Homo sapiens: one gene and its partner. The protein of the gene in region 1 interacts with the protein of each later gene in a pairwise test. Each region holds a gene or a part of one and is shown on either strand. Other genes may lie near its edges.

Region 1 (3,838 bases):
GGTAACAGGAACTCCACCTAGAGAAGATAACGAACGTAATTGATCAATGTTGTGTGTATTCTGACTGCTCCACCAATGAGCTCTTCCCCATCTCTTTTCCTTTTCTTGGGCCTACCTATTCCCTGAGATACAGCGATACTGAAATTAGGACAGTTAACAATCCTAAAATGGCCACTAACTGTTCAAATGAAAGGAAGAGTCGCATTCTCTCACATTAAATCAGAATCTAGAAATGGCTAAGCTTAGTGAGGAAGGCATGCTGAAAGCCGAGACAGGATGAAAGCTAGGCCTCTTGCACCAAATAGCCAAGCTGTGCATGCAAAGGAGAAGTTCTTGAAAGAAAGAATAGTATATAATGCAAAGGAAAAGTTCTTGAAGGAAATAATAATACTAATACCCAGTGAACACAAGAATAAGAAAGCAAAACAGCCTTACTGCTGCAATAGAGAAAGTTTGAGTGATCAGGATAGAACATGAAACCAGCCACAACATTCCCTTAAGCCAAAGTCTAATTCAGAGCAAGACCTGAACTCTCTTCAAGCCCATGAAAGCTGAGAGAGGTGAAGAAACGTGTGAAACTAGCAGAGGTTGGTTTGTGAGGTTTAAGGAAAGAAGCTGTCCCCATAACATAAAAGTGCAAGGTGTAGCAGCAAACACTGATGGAGAAGCTGCAGCAAGTTATCCAGAAGATCTAGCTAAGATCACTGATGAACGTGGCTACACTAAACAACAGATTTTCAATATAGATTAAACAGCCTTTTATCGGAAGTAGATGCCATCTAAAACTTTCATAGCTAGAGATGATTGACTCCAACTTTGAAAGAAGTTCTAAAGTGGCTAAATGCTATCGAATAGCATCACATACTACAGAGAAATCTTTCATGAAAGGGAGAGCTAATCGATGTGGCAAATTTCATTGTTGTGTTCTTTTAAGAAACTGCCACAGCCACTCCACCCTTCAGCAACCACCACCTTGATCAGCCAGCAGCCATCAACACCGAGGCAAGACCCTCCACCAACAAGAAGAGTGTAACTCACTGAAGGCTCAGAAGATTGTTAGCATTTTTTAACAATAAATTATTTTAAAATTAAGGTATGTACATTTTTAGACATAATGCTATTGCACACTTAGTAGAGTACACTATAGTGTAAACATAATGTTTTTATGCACTGCGAAACAAACGAAAAACAATGTGTGTGACTCACTTTATTGCAGTGCTCTGGAACCCAACCTGCAATATCTCTGAAGTACACCTGTATTGGGTATCAGGCATTGAGCTGAGTAAGATATGATCCCAGGTTATCACAGATAGAATCGCTTGAGCACCTTTCATGTCATCAGGCCTTCAGGATTTAATTTAATGCCTCCAAACAATTTACGAACTATGATTCTTTATTTCCATCTTATGGACTAGGAATCTGGAGCTGAGAAAATTTGGAAGACTTGTCCCAAGTCACGTGGTTTTTTATATGGATGACAACTCCAGTCTGCATCTCTGGAAGTCATGTCTAACATCTCATCTGGAGCTGGGCGAGCTCTTCAGCCCAGCCTGGACCCAGGCTTGTCTGGGATCCATGCCACACACCCAGTCCACACACCTGAACATAGCCAGAAAAGCCAGAGAAGTTGTTCCCAAATCATTTCCTCTTACCAGATCTCTTATTAATCTTCTCAGAAATATTTGCTTTTCCTGGGGGGTGCAGTTGTTTCCCATCGTTTTGTGGGCCAGATGCTTCTGACACTCCCTTCGAATCATTTTCGTCCTCTGCTGGCTTCTTGGGCATGATCTTTATAATGTGAAGGTTACAGATAAACAGTATCAGTGACATTTCTATAGTGCTTTAGAGCTTACAAAGCGTCTTCACATGCATTACCTTAATGAATGTTCTCAACAACGCGGGGAGAGTTACACTTGCCTAAATGAGACAAACCTGGGAGATTAGAAGCAAAAGGAATGGCCTAAATGAATGCAGTTTCCAGGGCTAGAATGCTTATCTTCACACTCTTTTAAGACTGACATTCGTGGAAACAGCAGAAATCTCCATGTAGTTGAGAGTGTAGTACACAGAATATTTGGAGAAAAATAGCATTCTAAGAATTCACAAGGTCTACAAAAGGAAGAGCTTCTATAAAATACAAGGGATCCCATATAAGCTCGTAGACAGCTGCTGGGAGAGTAAATGTAAAAACATAGGGAGGGGACAAAACACTGCTGGGAAAGATGGTGTGGGGAGATGAATACAGGGAAGGGAGAGGTAAAGAAATGGTTTGCTGAAATTAATCTAGGCAGCAAAGAAAGCAGTACCAGATCTGGCATACCACCCTACCGAGGCACCAACATTGAATGTGGAATTCAGTGAGGTGGTACCCATACCAATTCTGGTTACACTGGGATGTGTCACTGACCAACAATATTAAGCTACTCTTTTTTTTTTTTTGACAAAGTCTCGCTCTGTCACCAGGCTAGAGTGCAGTGGTGCGATCTTGGCTCACTGCAATCTCCTCCTCCCCGGTTCAAGCGATTCCCCTGTCTCAGCCTCCTGAGTAGCTAGGATTACAGGCAGGCGCTACCACGCCCTGCTAAGTTTTGTATTTTTAGTAGAGATGAGGTTTCACCATGTTGGCCAGGACGGTCTCGATCTCTTGACCTCGTAATCTGCCCGCCTCAACCTCCTAAATTGCTGGGATTACAGTCGTGAGCCCCCGCGCCCGGCCCTTAAGCTACTTTTTACTCAGCTTCCTCACTTATGAAATAGTGAATAATACATGTAAAATAAGCTAAGGGAAAATCCTCTCTGAGCTTGTAAACATTGTTCAAATGTAATAATAATAACATTGAATACCTTTCTGGATCCTTCTTTGAATTCGTTCTCCATACTGGCAACCCAACTCCCAGATCCCTTTACCTTCTAAACCAGAGCTGAATCTGCACTTCCAGAATCACTCATTCAGGGGCCTCTGAGGGATCCCCTGGGCTGGGACTGGGGCTTCTCGGATGCCCCAGGTGCAGACAAAGCCCTCAAGGAGCTCAAGGAGGGGCCAACAGTCAAAGCGATTCCTAAGCCATGGGAGTGGCCCCGGTAACAGAGCAGAGGCCAGCTGGTCCTTCCTGTTGCGAGAGTGGGTGTCTCAATGGAAGCACCAGTAGGCCCTATGGGGTAAAGCCCTAGTGAGCAACATCTGAACTTCATAAACAAATACAAACGTGAATGAGCTTTAAATGGCTTGGAGCTCTGGATTAGACTACCACTGACACTGTGCCCCAGGAAAATTCTTTAACATCTCTGTACCCCGATAGCCTCATTTTATTATTATGTTGCTGATAACTATGGTCTATAACATGAACTATTATTCTTTACTTCCATTTCATGGACTAGGAATCTGGAGCTCCGATAACTTAGAAGATTTGTGCCAAGTCACATGGCTTTTATATGGATGACAACCGAAGTGTGTGACTCATTACTATTTGGAGATAATAAAAGAAACAATGTCATAGAGGTCTTCTTATGGATTAAATTAATTAATCCATGTGAACTGCTTAAAATAGTATCTGGCATCACTATGAAAACAAAAGAAGTATTAAGGATCACAACTGTTAGTATTATCAAGCCGTCGGTGCTACATAAGTTGTTGTGATAGACATGGGGAGAAAGAGGCAATGAGGGCGTTTTTGATATTCTCCCTGTCTTATCAGTGTTCACATCCATGAAAGGAAAAAGGTTCTCTGGTCCTTTAGATTTGAGAGATACTCACCTTCGGGATGATTCTGTGGAGCCTGCCGAAAGTCATCTGAGGATGTTCAACTGAAAGAGAACACATCAGAATTTTTCTTTGTTG
Region 2 (3,500 bases), on another chromosome or scaffold:
AGCAGGAGTTCTCTGCGTGAGGGTCAGCATAGGCCTGTAAACCACCTGCTAAGTTGTTCAAAATTGTGCCTCAGGAGGGGACCTGGGTTTTCATCAGATTCTTAAAGGGATTCAGGACCCAGGAAAGTAGAGTTAATATTTGTTGAATAAATAAATCAGCAGATAAAGCACCATACTTGTAGAGGATGTGCACGGAGATGGCCGAACCTGAGGATGTAGAACAAAGCACACAGTCGGCTCTGGATGGTTCTAGACCTCCCAGAACACAGGTGAGAACCAGGTCCTCCACAACTGCTGTGTAACCACATCACCTGGATCAAAGAGGAAGGCTGGCAGGCACCCACCTCTACTGTGTGTGTGTGTGTGTGTGTGTGTGTGTGTGTGTTATGTGTGTGTGTATAACAGAGAAAGGAAGCCTACACATGTGTTACTAGAGAGTGTTTTCAAAAGGCCTGTATATTTAATATCCAATCCCAGCCAATTTGCAAAGCAGGTACTGAAATGAAACAAGGCACCAGGTGTGGTGGCTCACGCCTGTAATCCCAGCACTTTGGGAGGCTGAGGCAGGAGGATCACTTGAGCCCAGCCTGGGCAATATGGTGAATCCCTGCCTCTACAAAAAATGCAAAAAATTAGCCGGGTGTAGTGGTGTGCACCTGTAGTCCCAGCTACCTGGGAGGCTGAGATGGGAGGATCACCTGAGCCCAGGGAGGTTGAGGCTACAGTGAGCCAAGATCACGCCACTGCACTCCAGCCTGGGCAACAGAGCGAGACCCTGTCTCTAAATTAATTAATTAAAATGAAACAAGGCTTTCATCATGCTTGTTGCGAACCCTCCCAACAAACCACGCAAATCTGGAGAATGTGTCCTAACCAGAGATCCAAGGAGAGGAGGGCTGAGAGGAGACCCCGGAACAGAGGGAAGACCCTTCAGCAGCCTCCTCCACAGGGGCCACACTCTCTCCCACTAAAAAGCAGGCAGGGGGCTTTCAGTCACCGGAGGCCCAGCTGACACCAGCACACCAGAGACATGAAAGATAACGGGGGTATAAATTTAATCTACATACCGACAGTGATTCATGCATGAGGGTGGCAAGTGCACAAGAAAAATGAAAAATAAGTGGACTTCCCCACCAGCGTTTTTTAGCAATTGAAGCAATTTTCCTGATTGTGGGATTTATACTGAAGGGAAGTGGAAGTGGCTCCTCATTACCTTTTCCCCTGGAGCACAGCCAGCGGGACCCTTGCCGAGGGAGCCGCATGCAGCACCTCCTTGGCCCACAAGGCTCCCCCGGCCCAGCCCAGCCCTGCAGATCACCCTCCACCCCATCTCCAGTCAGAGCCAGTGTATCTAGAATACAGGGCATCCTACAGGGGTGTGTCTGTGATGGAGACACTGTCCCCATTCCCAGATCTTAGAATAGCCAGAGTCACAGGTGAGAAGGCCAAAGCCTGGCAGGTCACATGACTTGCCCTGCGACAGGCAATAATGAGACACACGGTCATGCCTAGAATTCCCTGGCCCCACACGAGGTAAAACTGTGAACCCGGCTGCTACACAGAGAACCAGAAGTCTAACCAACTGGACCAAATATGAAGGACGCTGGGGTAAAGAGGGAAAGGCTGGACTCCAGCCAAGGAAGAGGGCTCCCAAGGGCTTTTCCAAGCAGCACCCCTTAACACCGATCACCGGGCACCCATGCAGGGGCACCAAGGGCACTGGCCTCACCCTTCAGAAAGATAAGCCTGCTGCCCAGTCCTGCTAGCCAGGCCTCTGGGGACAACCAGTCCCCCCAGGAGAGCAGCTGGAGCTGATCCAAAACCACAGAGAAAATGCAAGGAAGACTTGCTAATGGCTCATATTATTTTCATCCTCTAACCAACACCACTGGAAATTGTCTTATCCCTGCCCAGCACATAGTAGGCAAGCCACAAAGACCCAATGAATGAATGAATGAATGAACGAATGAGCAAACGAATGAGTGAACGAACGAACTGCTTCTTAAAACATTTGCCTGAGTAGTCAGGGGAGGCTTGGCTCTCCATAATGGCAGCTCTTTTCTTTTCTTTTTTTTTTTTTTTCAAGTTTGGTATTAACTTTGTTCTATTTTTGGTCTAACTTTAAGTACCTAAAGATTTATTTCCACAGGCCTCAGAAAATGGGTAGAAATCACAGGACAATCCCTCTTCCCACCAAAAAAAGTTGCATACTTTGGTAAGTGTTTATCCTAGAGGGAAAAAGCTGAAATTTACATTAGCAGTGCTGTGCAAGATTCTGACATAAATCACGACCTCAAACCAGCCTGCAGTGGAGGTTCTAGTCTTCTGTTCAGGCACTTGGACAGAAGCCATAGCTGATGAGCATGACAGGGAAAAGGAGGCAGTAAAGACAGGTGACAGGCACCTTGTAGGGAAGGAGGATTCAGGAATGCCAGGCTCCTTGGAATGGTGTGCTGTTTTTCCTTTTTTTTTTTTTTTTTTTCCTTTCAAAGTCATCTCTGTAGGAAGGTGCTGGGCAGCGATCCCAGAGAAAGAAAGGTCCAAGACTCCTTTAACTGTCCTGGATGAAGGGCAGTGCTACAGCAGCTAGTACCGGAGACTCTCCTATCTCATGGTTGAGGCAGACCCAGGATAGAATAGAGAATAAAAGGAATGCTTATAGGAAACCATTTTGCATGGAATGCTAGATGGCCAAGCCTCAGCCTTTGGTCCAGTGCAACCCTTGCCTCACTTGTCAACAGTGAAAAATTAGTTTGGTTAGAGGAACCATCTGGAAACACACCAGCTTCTGCTAGCTTCATGTTCATTGCTAGAAAAAGATTAACCAGTGTGAACATTCTGATCTGTTAATTCCTGGGATTGTTTTCTTCCCGAAGGACTGTTTGTTGGTAGGATAACCCCCAAAAGCTCAAAGCTAAAATGCATCATCAGTCCTGGTTGGCAGTTCCTTAAGAATGGACTGGCGGCGTGAGCGAGCTGATATGGACAAGCTGCCCCTTCCTGCAGAACATCAACTGACCTACTATCTCACCCCAAATCTCTGCCTGAGGTATATTTCAGTGAAGGCAGTTAGTTGTGCTTCTCAGAGCAGAGAAGCAGTTTTAAGCTCTTTTCTTTAGGGGTGAGGGGATCTCACTCGGTTGCCCAGGCTGGAGTGCAGTGCCACAATCATAGCTCACTGCACTCGAACTCTCAGTCTTCCCACCTCGGCCTCCTGAGCAGCTAGGATCACAGGCACATGCCACCATGCCCAGCTCATTTTTTAAGACATGTTTTGTAGTGATTGGGTCCTACTATGTTGCCGAGGCTGGCCTTGAATTCCTGGTCTCAAGTGATCCTCCCACCTTGGCCCCCAAAGCACTGGAATTACAGGTGTGAGCCATCCCCTTTGCCTCTGCTGTCATTAGCTTCCCCTCTGCTGGCTCCTTCCATCCATGTACAGGCATGCTATGATCCCTGCCTGCCTCCCTTCTCTACCGCCCACTCCCCGCACCCTTCAG

What was found. Proteins that work in one complex are often made in the same cells at the same time.
Region 2: the proteins of SSX1 (region 1) and LHX4 interact in a two-hybrid assay, tested with the Homo sapiens proteins (one study listed by BioGRID).

What each region holds. Positions count from the first base shown.
Region 1 is NC_000023.11:48,261,732-48,265,569, reverse strand, and holds part of SSX1 (protein SSX1), read right to left. Parts: intron 3,805-3,838; coding exon 3,755-3,804; intron 1,789-3,754; coding exon 1,653-1,788; intron 1-1,652. UniProt on the Homo sapiens protein: Could act as a modulator of transcription. Plays a role in spermatogenesis.
Region 2 is NC_000001.11:180,261,264-180,264,763, reverse strand, and holds part of LHX4 (LIM/homeobox protein Lhx4), read right to left. Parts: intron 1-3,500. UniProt on the Homo sapiens protein: May play a critical role in the development of respiratory control mechanisms and in the normal growth and maturation of the lung. Binds preferentially to methylated DNA.